2 separate regions of the Homo sapiens genome follow, and region 2 is linked to region 1. The links come from fine-mapping of genetic effects on gene expression. A gene starts in region 1. The other region holds a variant in brackets. All regions are shown on one strand. Distances are from middle to middle. Region 1 holds the start of EOGT (EGF domain specific O-linked N-acetylglucosamine transferase). Region 2 overlaps UBA3 (ubiquitin like modifier activating enzyme 3).

Evidence for each region. PIP is the estimated chance that this variant, and not a neighbour inherited with it, causes the effect.
Region 2: its variant is fine-mapped to the expression of EOGT in testis (GTEx, PIP 0.91).

Annotation. Positions count from the first base shown.
Region 1 is chr3:69,009,994-69,018,332 of GRCh38, reverse strand. EOGT (EGF domain specific O-linked N-acetylglucosamine transferase) reads left to right here and starts at 4,649. Exons shown (of 18, transcript NM_001278689.2): 1 at 4,649-4,759; 2 at 5,534-5,818; 3 at 6,342-6,397. It overlaps EOGT-DT (EOGT divergent transcript), which reads right to left and starts at 5,213. Exons shown (of 1, transcript NR_185971.1): 1 at 280-5,213. RefSeq lists silencers at 4,422-4,721, 4,782-5,331.
Region 2 is chr3:69,061,164-69,069,502 of GRCh38, reverse strand. It overlaps UBA3 (ubiquitin like modifier activating enzyme 3), which reads left to right. Exons shown (of 18, transcript NM_003968.4): 6 at 1,495-1,575; 7 at 5,392-5,435; 8 at 6,000-6,064; 9 at 6,366-6,521; 10 at 7,324-7,426; 11 at 7,576-7,689. Among named protein-coding and RNA genes, the nearest start is that of TMF1, 13 kb to the right of the region's middle. The variant T/C (reference allele first, on the strand shown) is at 4,649.

The DNA of each region.
Region 1 (8,339 bases):
TATTTTTTAAAGTTCAGACACACACAGGGACCCAAGGATTTTGGAAAAGGAAGTGTGTACCCACACTTTATCATCAAGTCAACCTTTTAAAATGGATGCCATTATCACCCCCATTTTTAAAAATAAAGATTAAGTAAATTGCTCAAGGTCATATGGCAAGTAAGTGGCAAAGCTGGGATTCTAATTTGTGCAGTTTGGCTCCAGAGTCTATGATTTCAATAATTAATTATATGGTGCTACTTTTCCTACTGCTTTTCTGTAAAATCATAAGCATATAGATCAGTTACAGCCAAAATTTATTCATTAAAAATGTCAACACCTTTTAATTATGGTCTAACAGTTGGATGAGAGAACCAGTATACTACATTCTGCTGATATTGTTAGCAATTTACTCATTGTAATTTGTTGGATTTGTCTCAAATTTTTTAAGCCATGCATTCTTCCATCTCTGTCTCTCTTTTTCTTAATTCTTGCAATTTCGATGAAGTTTCTTATTTGTAGAAAAAACTAGGTCATTTGTCCTATAGTTTCCCTCCATCTGGATGTTGATTTCTTACCTTTTGTTAGTGTGTTCCGCCTCCTGTGTTTAAATCTAAAGGCAATTATTTTTCAACAAAAATACTTCATTAGGTGGAAGTGTATTCTTCCAGCAGGAGACAGATAATTCCTGATGGTTTCTCAGTTGTGATAAAGAAATAATTGATGATCACTTCTTAAATCTATTAGTTCACAGAGCTTGTGGAGTGATATTGTCATTTCTTTTTCATTTAGTAGTTGGAATGTTTCCATAAAAAATTTACTTCAGTTATTTTGTTATTTGCATCATAATTCATACAGGAAAGACAGTATAAATATTCCTGATTCTTTCCCTTTGTTTACCAGTTTTCAGAATAAGAGTTGGTTTCCTTCTGTCATTAAAAATGAACAGCGATACCTTTTTGGCTTGCATGTTTGGTTGATTGGTCGTGTCTGATATGATTACTTAAATGTATCTGTCCTTCATCCAATTACAGTTACCTTTATTTATGTTTTAAATCATCCTATCTTTGGCCAGTAGGAAGGTTTTCAAGGTGGATCCTGAGTCCTTTTGATATGACCCTAATAGCCTTTTGATTGCTTTGCTGCTTCCTGATGTAAGATGTTGCAGGCTTATCTTGTACATTTCCTGCTCCAGACCCAAGATCATCCATTGTTCTATGGAGTCAGTGTTTCTTTTAATGGGAAATGGTTGGTAGAGATCACAGTGTGAGCGCAAGGGGGTGCTTCTTCCTCCTGGGTAGCTTGTCTCTAGGCCTTTTCAATGGAGCACGTAGGAGAGATGTGTTTTTAAAGATTAACCATACTGTTAATCATACTGAGGCCTCCAACTGAAATTCAGAACTACAGGATGTTTATATAGCCTGATTAAGCTTTCATATTTCTATCTCATGTCAAAAATTTCAGCTTCAAAGGTACCATCATAATTACTTCAACTTGGTGTATCCCATAATACCAATATTGCCACCAACAATTTGGTTACGGAATGCAGTCTACAAAAGAGTTTTTTTGTACTTTAGTCCTGAGAATACATCCCACTAAGTATATACAAATTAAGTTTTAAAGTCACTTGGGATAGCTCCTCTGGGTGATATGCCACAATTGGAAAACATTTAGGTTCATTTAGTTTCATTTTACTTTCAAGGATTGCTTTTTAAAAACAGAATTTTGCTTTATAATGTAACATATTTACATGACTTCAAAGTCATGTCTTCACGCCAGGCGTGGTGGCTCACGCCTGTAATCCAAGCAGTTTGGGAGGCTGAGGTGGGCGGATCACTTGAGGTCAGGAGTTCGAGACCAGCCTGGCCAATACAGTGAAACCCCGTCTCTACTAAAAATATAAATATTTGTCAGGCATGGTGGCGCATGCCTGTAATCGCAGTTACTCAGGAGTCTGAGGGAGAAGAATTGCTTGAACCCAGGAGATGGAGGTTGCAGTGAGCCAAGATTGCACCATTGTACTCCAGCCTGGGCAAAAGAGTAAGACTCTGTCACACACACACACACACACATACACACACACACACACACACACACCAAAAAACAAAGTCATGTCTTCTTTGTTCCTTATACCCCTCCTCTTCCCTCCTTGCCCATATAGTCATTTTAAATGTTAATCTACTTGTAAAATAATAATTAGTAAATATATATGTGTATACACATGTATACACACATATTCCTCTTAGAAAAATGATATTTACATATTACATATCCTTTTCCCACTCAATATTCTGTAGTGTACAGAGATATTTCTCAATTCCTTTTTATGCATGCATAGTTTTACATTGTATGGATAAACCATAGTTTATTCAACCAGCCTTCTATTGGTAGACACTTGAGTTTTATGTCAGCTCAAAGAAAATTTAAATTCTAACATTGGTATTTTGGAGAGAAATTCTATTTGAGAATGGCTGTTACAGTAAGAGAGACTCAATCTCATGTTCAGGTTTATCATATCTGGTTTCCTGTAAGTCTGAATGACCATTCAATATGTAGGTGTTTAAAATAGCACCACATAGCCAGGCGTGGTGGCTCACAACTGTAAACCCAGCACTTTAGGAGGCCGAGGCTGGAAGATCACTTGAGGCCCGGAGTTGGAAACAAGTGCTGGGAACATAGCAAGAACCTGTTTCTACAAAAAAAATAAAATAAAATAGTACCATGCACATGTCATACTGATTTTAACCTTTTTGTATGTGACAAAAATAGGATGGTAGCAAGTAGGCTGAGGAAGCTTTTTTTTTTTTTTTTTATGAGACAGGGTCTCACTGTGGCCCAGGCTAGAGTGCAGTGTCTCAATCATGGCTCACTGCAGCCTCAACCTCACTGGGCTCAAGCGATCATCCTGAGTAGCTGGGACTACTGGCATGAGCCACAGTGCCTGGCTTGAGGAAGCATTTTAAAAAATTACTGTCATTAGTGTGGGATGGTGAAGTATGCAAAGTATAAAATAATAGAGCAGTAATTCTGTTATAGGAAAGGGGTCCCAATCCAGACCCCAAGAGAGGGTTCTTGGATCTCGAGCAAGAAAGAATTCAGGGCAAAGTGTAAGCAAGTTTGTTAAGAAAGTAAAGGAAAAAAAAAAAGAAAGTAAAGGAAGAAAAGAATGGCTACTCCATAGACAAAGCAGCCCTGAGTGCTGCTGGTTGCCCATTTTTATGGTTATTTCTTGATGATATGCTAAACAGGTGGATTATTCATGCCTCCCCTTTTAAGACCATATAGGGTAACTTCCTGACATTGCCATGGCATTCGTAAACTGTCATGGCGCTGATAGGAGTATAGTAGTAAGGACTACCAGAGGTCTCTTTCATGGCCATCTTGGTTTTGGTGGGATTTAGCCGGCTTATTTACTGCAACCTGTTTTATCAACAAGGTCTTTATGACCTGTATCTTGTGCCGACTTCCTATCTCATTCTGCGACTTAGAATGCTTTAACGGCCTGGGAATGCAGCCCAGTAGGTTTCAGCCTCATTTTACTCAGCTCCTATTTAAGATGGAGTTGCTCCGGTTCACATGCCTCTTGACAGTTCCCTTAGAGGCAAAATCTTTTCAATAAAAAGAATAAATTAATACTGTAAAGTGCTTTAAAACAATGTTTGGCACATGTTAAACACCACATGTTCTTGCTGTTATTATTTGAAAAAAATTCCAGGTAAGATTCCTAATTTAGCAGGTCACTAATGGAACTTGTAACAATTCTTAAACAACATTACTTTTAAAAATTACGTAAAAAGCATGTAAGCCTTTGGAAACAAACTTGTTTCCTTATGATCATATTATTTAACTTCTGGTGACTATATTCATTTGAGCATGTTTATTTTGAAGTCATCACCTTCATATAATCAGTTCAACTTTAGTCACTATTTAATGATCAACTCTACTGTGCTGTAGATGGAATACTAGGCCTGGGGGAGCTTAGAGGAAAAGACAGTGGGGGATGGGAGTTCAAATAATTATAAGCAGTAATAAAGTAAATTAACAAAACCATAAAAATTAAACTCCACAGAGTAGCATTTGAACTTGATGAGTTTACGGATAGGTAAAACTATACTGCTTTTAAAATGTGTGTGGACTCCAAAGTATCCTCACCATCACAAAGTGTATTCGGTGAACGATGTTCAGTCCCCAAATTTGGAAGTTAGGGCGGCAACTTCTGCTTGAAATAAGACAAAAGTAAAAATCCACCTCAGTGCAACGCAGAAGACACGAAGAGTCAGGTTTTCTACCCACCCCGTCCTAACATCCTCTGAGCGCTTTAACGCTCTCGCTCAAGGAGGCGCGGGCTGCTGCGATGGAGATGGGCGTCCGGCGCCGGCACGTGCCGTCGGTCTTTCCGGCCCTGGTGAGGGAGCTGGCGGACTCGCGCGAACGTTCGCGGGAGAACGCCAGGAAGGGCAGATGGTTCCTCGACTCTGAGCCCCTCCCTGCTGCGCTCGCCGGGTCGAGGCCGCTCGCCGGGCTGAAGCCGCTCCGAGCGTCGGGCCCCGCGCCCTGGCCCTCCTGGGTGTAGTCCCGGTCCTGCCTCTGCGGGGCCCGAGCCCGCCCACGGCGCCGGCTGGCCAAGGTGTCCCAGCTGCTCCTTGGCGCCCCCTGGCCCAGCTCCCGCGCCCGAGGTTTCCGGTGAGCGGCAGTAGCCGGTTATGACGACTCCCTCCTCTGGAACAGCCGCCGTCTCCTCCGCCTCCTCCTCGGTAGTTCACGGCTGCCCCGGCTCCAGGTGGGACTCCCCCGCAATCTGCGGAGCCTTCCCCCGCTCTCCTTCCCGCCGCCGCAGCGCTCTGCGCTGTTCTTGCCCGGGTGGTAGCCGCTCCCGGCGCGGCTTCCCGGAGGGCTATAGCCTACGCACGCACTCCGCCCGCGCCTTCCCATTCCCTGCGGGCCGGGAGGCGGGCGTCGGAAGCCGATCCTGGCCCTCCCCGGCCCCGGGCGCCCGGCCCCTTCCCAGCGCCCGGAGCGCAGGCGGGCCCCGGGCCCTAGCCGCGTTGACCAGGTTTCCAGCCGGGGCGGAGCCGCTCCCCGGGGCCCCTCCCAGGCGCGCTGGGGACCCGGGGCGCCGCGGTGCACGGTGGCGGGCGGCCCCGGGAGATCACCGACCCCGAAGCAATCCCTGGCGGCGCCCGGGGTCCGGAACCCCAGCGCGGCGTCTCAGCCGCGGCGGGGTGCTCGCCACTGACCCCTCAGCCCTTGGCCGGGACTGACGTTCAAGCGGACAGCTGGGCTCTGCCGGGACTGACGTTCAAGGGGCAGCCGAGCACTTCCTGAGCCCTGCCTGGCACCCGCCGAGAGACTTTTTGGCACAAGTAGGGGCCAGCCGTTGAGGTGTCATTCGGGGTCTCACGTGTTGAACTTTCCATTTGCCCACTGCCGTCTTTAAACTTTTCCAAGCTCTCTCTCTCTGCGACATTGCCCCATTTCGCCCGCTGTGTCAACCCCAGGTTTTGCCTCCTATCCATCATCTTTCAGATGTTTCCCTTTTTTCCTTCCTCATTAGGCCTGTGGAAATCGAATCAAGGGTTTCTGGAGTGGAGTGATTCCAGCTGCTTTGAGCTGAAGGAAAAGTAGCCTGGCCAGTAAAGCGTCCGTGTGCTGGAGGAGTGCAGCCACCCATCCCGGCGGGCCTTGCAGGACGACCGACACCAGGAAGGCTTTGTGCCAGGCCCAGCAGCCACCCCCAGCCGCCTTATGCAAGTGGGTACATGCCCTCGCCAGACGCCAGCTTTCTGATCTGCGTCTTTAGATTTTTTCCATCGCCTAAGCGTTACTTCTCCACTGATCGGTGAGTTTAGTGATGGCCAGAGCTCACTGGAGGACAATGGACTTGGATAACCAAAGGTCAGGGCTTGGTCATAACAATGACTTTATTACCGGGAAGGACGAGTCAAAAAATAGGAAGGCCTGGGAACCCTCAGGCTCGCCACTCTAGGTGGGTAGCCCTGTGATTCAGCCAGTGGGATTACTGCTGTGAGAATGGGAAAGTTGTTTGCTTCTGGGAATGTTTGATCCACTAAGTATCCTGTTGGCCAGTTCCAGTGGATGCCTGTAGAAAGTGGGCCACCTCCTCCCGTTCCCCATTGGAATCTGGTCCGAGTTGCTGTGTTGGGGGTGGTGCCTGTGAACTCGAGTATAGCAGTGTGGTATTCATTAAGGAAAAGAAAGCGCACCACCGGCCAGGCCTTCTGGCTGAGAGTTATCACGTTACATTATTTTCTTTCTTAATATTTCCTTTAATTCACAACATCATCTGAATGATCAGGTTTACTTTAGCATCCTTTTAAGGTAATATGTTTCATTTCTGACAGGTTTTAGAGACCTGAAACATCACAGAAGCTTCTGAGTGGTTCTGAAGATTCAAGAGGTATATATTTTTATTACAAGTAGAGTCATTGTTACTATTAATATGTGTTTTTAAATTTTTATAAAACTGCTGTCAACTCATTCTTGGATAAAAGCTCCAAGTGAAAATGTTATTGTAATTCAGATCAGATTTACAGCAGATAACACCATACTCTTGAGGGCCGCCAAAGTGAAAAACCACAATACTTAACTACTCCAAGGGGGGAAAATGGGGGAAAAAGGATTCCTTTTTGGTGTCCCCACTGTTCACTTAGAATTCCATGGCCTTGGAACTTGAGGTTTGATGGAACATAGCAGTCAATTTCCTTTTCTTCTTTCTTTCTTTGTTTTTTTTTTTTTTTGAGACAGAGTCTCCCTCGCATTACCCAGGCTGGAGTGCAGTGGCGAGATCACGACTCACTGCATCCTTGACTTCCCAGGCTAAAGTGATCCTCCCACTTCAGCTGGGACTACAGCTGATTTTTTGTATTCTTAGCAGAGACCGGGTTTCATCACGTTGCCCAAGCTGGTCTCGAACTCAGGGACTCAAGCAATCTGCCAGTCTTGGCCTCCCAAAGTGCTACTATTACAGGCCTGCAGTCTGTTTCTAAAGGTTCCATCTTCACAGCCCATAATCAATGAAGACTGATTTCGAAAGTTGGGTTTTCCGGTATGACCCAGGAAACAGCAGTCCTAGCTGATGAACATCCAGTGTGTATTAAGACTCTGTCATCCAGTGGAAAGAGCACTTAAAAAAAAAAAAAGAACAAAGATCCCACTAAAGTGACCTGAGAATGGCAGGATCATTGTCTGGGATATATAGGAGAAATCTGGTCCAAGAGATTTAACACTTACTGGGTGAATTAGAAATGCAGTGAGGTTTCTGACCATTATCACTGTTCACAATGTAAAGGCATGATGGGAGAGCTTAAGGGCACAGTCTTTGAGGCAGACTGCTTAGTGTCCTGGAGTTTCTAAGTCTTAGCTATTATAGCTGATTATTATACCTACTAGCATGTAAGCTTCACAAGGGCAATGAGTTTAGTTCGTGACTGCACCTTCATTGCTGTATCCTGAGTACAGAAGCGCTCCTGGAACATTGTCTGTGCTCATACCTTGATTATGATTATAATTTTTTATTCAGCAGACACACACTTGCTCAGAGCCATCCCACTCCCTTTGCTCTCTCACAGATACTTTTCCCCTCCTCATCATTCAGATCTCAGCTTTAATGTTATTTAGGCCCCTTCTCTGCCCCACATGGCTTTAAACTTTTATTTAATAAACATTTCCATAGCATTTAGCATGTGCCAGATAGTTTTCGAAACACTTTACCAATAACTAACTCATTTAACTCATGACAGCTCTATGATGAAGGTTTATTATTATTTCCATTTTACAGATGGGAAAGCTTAGGTGCAGAAAGGTTAAGTAACTTGTTCCAGGTCTTACAGCTGGGAAGCTGCAGATTTGCGATTCAAATCCAGGTGGTTAAGCTTTAAATGTTCACCATGCTATGTTGTCTATCATATTACTTTATTTAGTTTCAGGTATCACTAAACTGGATCCTATCAAGCCCTTCCATAATTTTTGTAAGTTAAAAAGTTTTATTGGAACACAGCCTCATCCATTCTTTTATAATAGACCATGGCTACTTTTTTGGACAGAGGCATTGTTGTGTAGTTGCCACAGAGATCTTATGTCTGGCAAAGCCAAAAATATTTACTGCTTCTCCTTTACAGGAAAAGTTTGCTGGCCCCTAGTTGGTTTGATTCACAGGCCCAGTCATCAGCTGAAGTTGTTTATTTGATTGCTTGTTTATGACAGTTGTAGTAGGTTTAAAGGCACCATGAGAGCAAGGCTCTTTCTTGTTTTGTTCACCTCTGTATACCCATTTGCTAACGTGGTGCCTGGCACCAAGCAAGTGCTCAAAAAAAATTGAATAAAGGATCATTATTCAGTGG
Region 2 (8,339 bases), 51 kb before region 1:
ATACAAAAATTAGCCAGGCGTAGTGACTCATGCCCGTAGTCCCAGCACTCTGGAGGCTGAGACAGGAGAATTGTTTGAATCTGGGAGGCAGAGGTTATAGTGAGCCGAGATTGTGCCACTGCACTCCAGCGTGGGTGACAGAGCGAGACTCTGTCTCAAACAAACAAAAAAAAAGAAAAGAAAAATTGACATGCTAAAGTGTTTTTCTTTGAAATTTCAGATTTTTTTCTAATAAGCACACGATTTATTATTTTCATTTATTTTAAAAGTATTTACTGTGTGCTAGGTAGGAAGGAATATGAAGAGAGTAAGAACATGGTCACTTTCATCCAAATAATAGTCTAGTGGGTATGATAGACGTGTATGTAGCAAATATGTTACGAAAAAAGTAATAATGTTCTTATTATATACATGGAGTGATTTCTCTGAGGAGAATATGGAAATATTAGGAAAGAAAATACCATTTGTATAGAACTTAGAGGAGGAAATTCATATCCTTTCCTATCTATATGTGTGGTTATTGTTTTAAGAGTGACCTTTTGAGGCCTTATATATTCAGCTTCTGTGATGTAATAGTAACATTTGCAATTTTAGCTGACACTTTTGGTATTATTCTTTCTTTAAAAACTTGGTGCCGGGCATGGTGGCTCATGCCTGTAATCCCAGCATTTTGGGAGGCTGAGGCGGGCAGATCACCTGAGGTCAGGAGTTCGAGACCAGCCTGACCAACATGGCAAAACTAAAAATACAAAAACTAGCTGGTTGTGGTGGCAGGCACCTGTAATCTCACCTCCCTAGAGACTGAGGCATGAGAATTGCTTGAACCTGGGAGGCGGAGGTTGCAGTGAGCCGAGATCGCACCACTGCACTCCAGCCTGGGTGACAGAGTGAGTGAGACTCCGTCTCAAAAAGAAAAAAGAAAAAAACGTGGTTACAGCCTCTTTTTTTTTTTTTTTTCCATTTTATATACGGTCCAGTGAAATTTTTTTTTTCTTTTTTTTTCTTTTTCATGCAGCTTCTTAGGGGACACAAAATTTGCTGCTTAATCAGCACACACAGGAAGAAGGGGTTAAATGAAGGTTCTTGCATCCCAAGGATGAATCTTATTGTGTATATTTCAGCCAAGACCTGTGGAGTAACACCATAAGGTTCTGAGCTCTAAGAGTGGGATAATTTTTTACAGTGGAAAGTGGCCAGGAATCATAGCATTATTATGCTTTATCTGGGAGGAAGAACACTGTTCAGATTTTCTCTTAATTAAAGCAATACTTAATTAGACTTATGTTAATTTGGACCATTAGCAAGGGTTGACATTTAAGGTTAAATGACCGTTTACCAAAAGTTATTACTGAAATCAAAATACTTAGGCAAAAATATTCCTTCTAAATTTCCTATAAGTAAACTTACTGTGAATTTACTTTTATGTTTGAAAATAAGTTATGTAGATCATATAGATTTATAATATGAATTATAATTTAAATATTTTTCCTGTAGGCCTAAAGATATTGGAAGACCTAAGGCTGAAGTTGCTGCAGAATTTCTAAATGACAGAGTTCCTAATTGCAATGTAGTTCCGTATCCTTTTGACAAAAAGAAAATTACTTAATTTTTAAAAGCTTTTTTCCTTTATTATAAGAGATATTTAACAGAGAATACAGATAAGCAAGAGGGAAAAAAAGTCAGCAGTAGTAACTTTATTACTGAGATAACTGCTGGTAACATTTTGCTATCTATTCTTCCAGTCTTTTCTGTATGGTTATATAAATATTTTTTGGGCCCTGATTTTTAACTTAAGTTTATAAAGCCTGTTTCATCATCTACTTTATTTTGCATTATTGCCCTTAATTTCAGTATCAATTACATATCTCCTTTACTAGAGTGTAAATTCCTAGGCTGGATCCAATTAATCTTTGTTTCTTTATAGTAGCAGACAGAGTAGACAGTCAATATAGTATTAGCCAAATGGAAGGTACATCACAGTAAATTTATTTTTACAAGAAATATGTTTTTAAAAAGGAGTATTTACACTGTAGTTTGAATTTAGATCTGGAGAACTTTTGGCATTTTATAGAAAGTCAGAAGATGTGATTTCTATGTAGAAAGTCCCACAGAATACAAAATCAACATACCGGTGAACTTGTGAAAGTTAATGTAAAATACAATGCCATTTACAACTGCTTAGAAAGAAAAATAAATACTTAGATGTAAACTACAAGATAAGTAAGAGATTTATATAGTGAAAAACTACAAAATGCTGATGAAAGAAACCAAAGAAAATCTAAATAAATGGAGAGATAGTCCATCTTCAAAGATTGGAAGATTAAATATAGTAAAGATGTCATTTCTCCCTAAATTTGTATACATATATACCATAGTTTCTATTAAAATCCCAGCAAAATTGTCGATATAGACGATCTTCTAAAATTTTATATAGAAAAGCAAAGGAATACCTACTACAAATCTGAAAAAGAAAGTGGGAGGAATCACTATCCAAATTCTAGACTTATATAGCTATAGTAATCCAGACTCAGTGGCGTTACCAGAGGGATATATAGATGACTAGAACAGAATAGGGAAGCCAGAAATAGCCCCATATAAGTATGGCCAATTTGTTTTTGATAAAGGTGCAAAACAGTTCCAATGGAAGAAGCATAGTCTTCAACAAATCGTACTGGAGCAATTTCATATCCATAGTTAAAAGATGAATTTTGACCTAAACATACAAAATTAACTCAAAATGGATTATAGGTGTAAATATAAAATATAAAATGAGCCAGGCGTGGTGGCTCATGCCTGTAATCCCAGCACTTTGGGAGGCCGAGGTGGGTGGATCACTTGAGGTCAGGAGTTCGAGACCAGCCTGGCCAACATGGTGAAACCCCGTCTCTACTAAGAATACAAAAATTAGCCGGGCACAGTGGCTCCCAGCTACTCAGGAGGCTGAGGTGGGAGAATCGCTTGACCCTAGGAGGCTGAGGTTGCAGTGAGCTGAAATTGCGCTACTGCACCCCAGCCTGGGCGACAGAGCAAGGCTCCATCTCAAAAAAACAAAAAAAAACACAAAAAACCATAAAACGATAGAACTTTAGGGTTTGGTGGAGAGTGCTTAGGCCACGTCAAAAGCAAGACCTGTAAAAGGTGGGGTATGGTGGTGCAGATCACTGAGGAAGCAGTGAGCTTTTATCATACCACTACAGAGTCCTGGCTGCTTGGGAGGCTAAGGTGGGAGGATTGCTTGAGACTAGGAGTTTGAAGCTATAGTAGGCTGTGGTCATACTGTGAATAGCCACTGCATTCCAGCCTGGGCAATGTAGTGAGACATCATCTCTAAAAAATTAAAATAATTTTTTGTAAAAGCATGAGCCATAAAAGGAAAAAATTGATACACTGAACTTCATCAAAATTAAAAACTTGCTGTGTGAAAGACCCTCTTAAACGGATGAAGAAAAGCCACAGACTGGAGAAAATACTTGTAAAGCATCTGATGGAGGACTCATATCTAGAGTATATAATGAACTCTAAAAACTCAACAGTAAAACAAAAAAAAATTCAATTAGAAAATAGACAAAAGATAGGAAGAGATATTTTACTAAAAAGGATGACGAAAAGCACATGAAAAGATGTTTCACATCAAACTAAGACCACCATGAGCGATACTGTTACACAACTATTAGACTAAAAAAAAAAAGCCAGTCTCAAAAGGTCATATACTGCATGATTCTGTTTATATAATACTCTTGAAATTACAGAATTATAGAGATGGCTGGGTGTGGTGGTTCAGGCCTGTAATTCCAGCACTTTGGGAGGCTGAGGCGGGAAGATCACTTGAGCCTGGTTGTTTGAGAACAGCCTAGGCAACAAATGAGACCCTATTTCTGTAAAAACTAGAAAAATTACCCGGGCATGGTGGCACATGCCTGTAGTCCCAGCTATGTGGGAGGCTGAGGCAGGAAGATCAGTTAAGCCCAGGATGTGGAGGCTGCAGAGAGATCTTTATTGTGGTCGAATAGTTATGTGTGTTGCCTGGGGTGGTGGTTACACAAATCTATGTGTGTTTAAATGACAGAATTATAAACACACATTGTACCAATGTTCTGTTCATGGTTTTGGTACTGTACTATAGTAAGATGTAACTGGGAAAGGTGCATGGTACCTACCTATACTATCTGTGCAACTTACTGCGAATCTATATTATTTCAAAATAAAGAGCTTAAAAATGCAAATACAGGCCCCTGTAGGGAAAAAGGAAGAGTTGGTGGGGGTGGGTTGGTTAGTGGGGGGCACTCAGTTTGTCTATCCCCATTATGTGGGTCTGGGAAACTTTGGGTATTTTCTAGAAATCCAGATTAGATTTCTTAGTCTGGCTCTTGGTTCCCTGATTGCCATTCCTCCACTGTTTGCTTTGTTTCTTTTTTGACCTCTTTCTAGCTGTAGCTTCGTTCTCCTGCTTGCCTAGCATTCAAAGGGAATAGAGGTCTGAATGACTGAGGGCTAGAATTGAAATTATTGTTCATAGCTTTATTTGTAGGCAAGAATTAAAAATCTAGAGGAAGCATGTATTGTCCCTTTTTTCTATGTATTGTCCCTTTTTTCTCTGTATTGCTTTTAAAAAATTTATAGTGGACTATTTATCTTAACTTTAGAGAAG[T/C]TGCATAATTTATAAATTATTAAACAATTGCTCCATTCATTAGAAAAATTAAAACAAGTTTTTGCACACATGTGCTATTAAAACATTAAGTGCTATATTGACTCACCCACAATCAGTTTTGAATGGAGTTTCCTTTTTAGCCTCCAGGGATGGGAAGACTGGTAATAGGATTTGGTAGGGTAACTTGAAAACTGAGTTAAATGAGAAAGGTAGAAAAAATTCGTACTTTTTCTCCTCCCCACAAAAAATAAAAACAGTAAAATCTTTACCAACTGAAAAAGCTGTTGAAATTTTCTGTATGTTAAAAAAATGAGCTTTGCAGTAACTCTTAAAATCACCTAGCAAAATAGGAACTATAATGTGCATCTTTCCTTCACTAAAACATTTATTGCATCTCTTCTTGATGCTGATGATTGAGGACACACATTCTGCTTTCCTGGGGCTTATGGTTTTATATAAAAACCAAAGCAAAGTAGAAAGTATACCTCCTACCAAGGGCATAAATATAATGATATAGGGGTTCAGGAATGAGAAAAAGTAAGTAGTTAGGGGAGGAATGGCAGAAAAGTTTTGTCAGAAAGGAGAGTTGTGTTCATTTAGTCAGATTCCTTGAATTCCACTGATGTGAACATTGATTACTTATTTCTTGTTGTAAATATATGCAGAGTGTGTTCCTTATGGCATTGTCAAATTCATTTTAGAAATTAAAACTTAGCTGCTTAAGTTCCTTTACTTGTATTCAGACATTTCAACAAGATTCAAGATTTTAACGACACTTTCTATCGACGTAAGTTTTTTACTTGAAATTAATGCTCACTAGATTCTTAGAATTTTTTAGTTGGTAGCTATTCAAATATTGCTAGCTATTTCAAGGCTATTTCTTCACTTGCTTTCCTCTCTCACTGTTGGCTTTTCAGTAATGTTGCTGATAGACTGAAAAGAGAATGCTAGTTTTAGCTGACATGACCAGCTACAAGTTTCTATGCTTACCTGAATGAGAGTTCACTCAAGGAATTGGAGCTCTGAGAACGTATGTGGGATTACAGTAAAAAGTGCTTGTGGTTTTTTTGTTGGTTTCTTAGAACGTGCAAATTGTTTTCTGCAAGTGCTTTTTTTTTTTAATTAGTAAACTTTATTTTTTAGGGCAGTTTTATGTTCACAACAAAATTGAACAGAAAATTTTTGAAAACTTGGGTTCTCATAGAGCTTCCTGTTCCCACAAACACACTACCTTCCTAATCAACATCTTGCACCAGAGTGGTACATTTGTTGCAGTTGATGAATCTACATTGAAAGATCATCATGCAACTACATATTTAAAAACTAAAGTTGCTTTTTTTTTTTTTTGTAGAATTTCATATTATTGTATGTGGACTGGACTCTATCATCGCCAGAAGATGGATAAATGGCATGCTGGTAAAGACTTTAGTATTGTTATAGTTCTCTGAAGTTCTTGCTGCTGTGCTTCACATCCCCAAAATTAGAATTGATATATTTTTGAAAAATCAGAGTTTAATTTTTAATTAAGTATATTTACTTCATTGTTTATTGCCAGTCATTGGTTTTCAGGTGAAGACACAAATTGTTATTATAATCCCTTGATTTGATACATTGGTATTCAATAGCACAACCGACTCATAGGATTACTTGAAAGCATACTTCTTCTTTTGAATTCTTATCCCCTTCTCCTTTAAAGCCCTTCAAATTGTTTTCCTAGATATCTCTTCTAAATTATGAAGATGGTGTCTTAGATCCAAGCTCCATTGTCCCTTTGATAGATGGGGGGACAGAAGGTTTTAAAGGAAATGCCCGGGTGATTCTGCCTGGAATGACTGCTTGTATCGAATGCACGCTGGAACTTTATCCACCACAGGTAATCAAAAAAGCACCTGCATTTCTTTTATAGTATCTTGGCATGGAATTAGGGATTAATTATTAAGTCTAGTTAATATTTAGGATTGTTAATTAGAAGTGGCCGTATTTTAAAAATTACACTAAGAAGAAAGATAAAATATGAAATTCTGCTCTATTTGAGGAAAGATATGAACCGAGTACATTGTTTTGATACTATTCTGCTTTCATAATTTATTTGTATTTTTTATTTGGGGAGTAGGTATCAAGTAGAATTACAAAGTTGTATATTGATGTCAAGCTGTAATCTATGTGGTTTTCACCTGTATTTATTTCAGGGAAATAAAGATACCAGGGATAAGAATGATCTTTCCAAGGATGGGGCTTTTTGGTTTACATATCCACTTTAAAGAACACTTGAAATTTTGAATAATAAATGTAAACAATTTTATGAGTATTCACTTGGGATTCACTTAACTCTGAACTTGCTTTTGTTTTGGTTTGCTTTATACTTAAATATTAGGTAAAAATAACAAGGTGTTCATATTTGAGAAAATCTGTTCAGTATTTTTCTTCTCATAGTCTAACAAAGCTTAAATTTTATACCTTGTAAATGTAGGGCAAACCTGTCTTTACAGGCAGTGCAGCCTAAGTGAAGTGACTCAGTTAATCTGTATTATAGTTTGAGAGGCATTTTTAATGGTATACAATATTTTGAGTTGAAACAAATTGTATGAAATTGTTAAGAACTAGATCATAACTGGAAGTTGCATTTTAAAATAATTCGTTTAAAATTCACTGAAAAGGACAAACTGTGGTTTTAGGTTAATTTTCCCATGTGCACCATTGCATCTATGCCCAGGCTACCAGAACACTGTATTGAGTATGTAAGGATGTTGCAGTGGCCTAAGGAGCAGCCTTTTGGAGGTAATAAACCTAATTTAATAATCTAGAATTACATAAAATACATATTTTTTCTATATTATTCCTTTGGATAATTTCATTAAAAACATTGTTTTGTGATTACGTATTCCTGTCTTCTCTCTCTCTCTCTCTCCCTTTTTTTTTTTAAACAGAAGGGGTTCCATTAGATGGAGATGATCCTGAACATATACAATGGATTTTCCAAAAATCCCTAGAGAGAGCATCACAATATAATATTAGGGGTGTTACGTATAGGCTCACTCAAGGTAAGTCAGCAAATTGTCATGAATTATGATGTTGGGATGACTTAGGGCTGGGATGCTTTCAGGAGAATAATCGATAAGTGAGTTTAGACAGTACCATCCACTTGAAGTTCAGTAAAGGTACCATGTAATTCATACTACTTATTAGCTAGGGGGAATTTAATAAAATTATTGAATCTTACTTACTTAGGCTATAAGTCATCCAAGTCAAACTGTCCATTTTATCTTCCACTGAATTCATCATCTCTTAGAGACAGTCTATTTCACATTTGGACAGGACTGTTAGACAAATATTCTATATATTGAACAGAAATTGTCTTCAGGTCAGCTGCGGTGGCTTATACCTGCAATCCTAGCACTTCGGGAGGCCGAGGCAGGCGGATCACCTGAGGTCAGGAGTTCGAGAGCAGTCTGACCAACATGGCAACACCCTGTCTCTACTAAAAATACAAAATTAGCTGGGTGTGGTGGCACATGCCTGTAATCCCAGCTACTCAGGAAGCTGAGGCAGGAGAATCACTTGAACCCAGGAGGCTGAGGTTGCAGTGAGCCTGAGATTGCGCCACTGCTTTCCAGCCTGGGCAACAAGAGCAAAACTTCGTCTCAAAATAGAAATCGTCTTCAGTTTGGTCTGACTGTTGTCCCAGTACTGT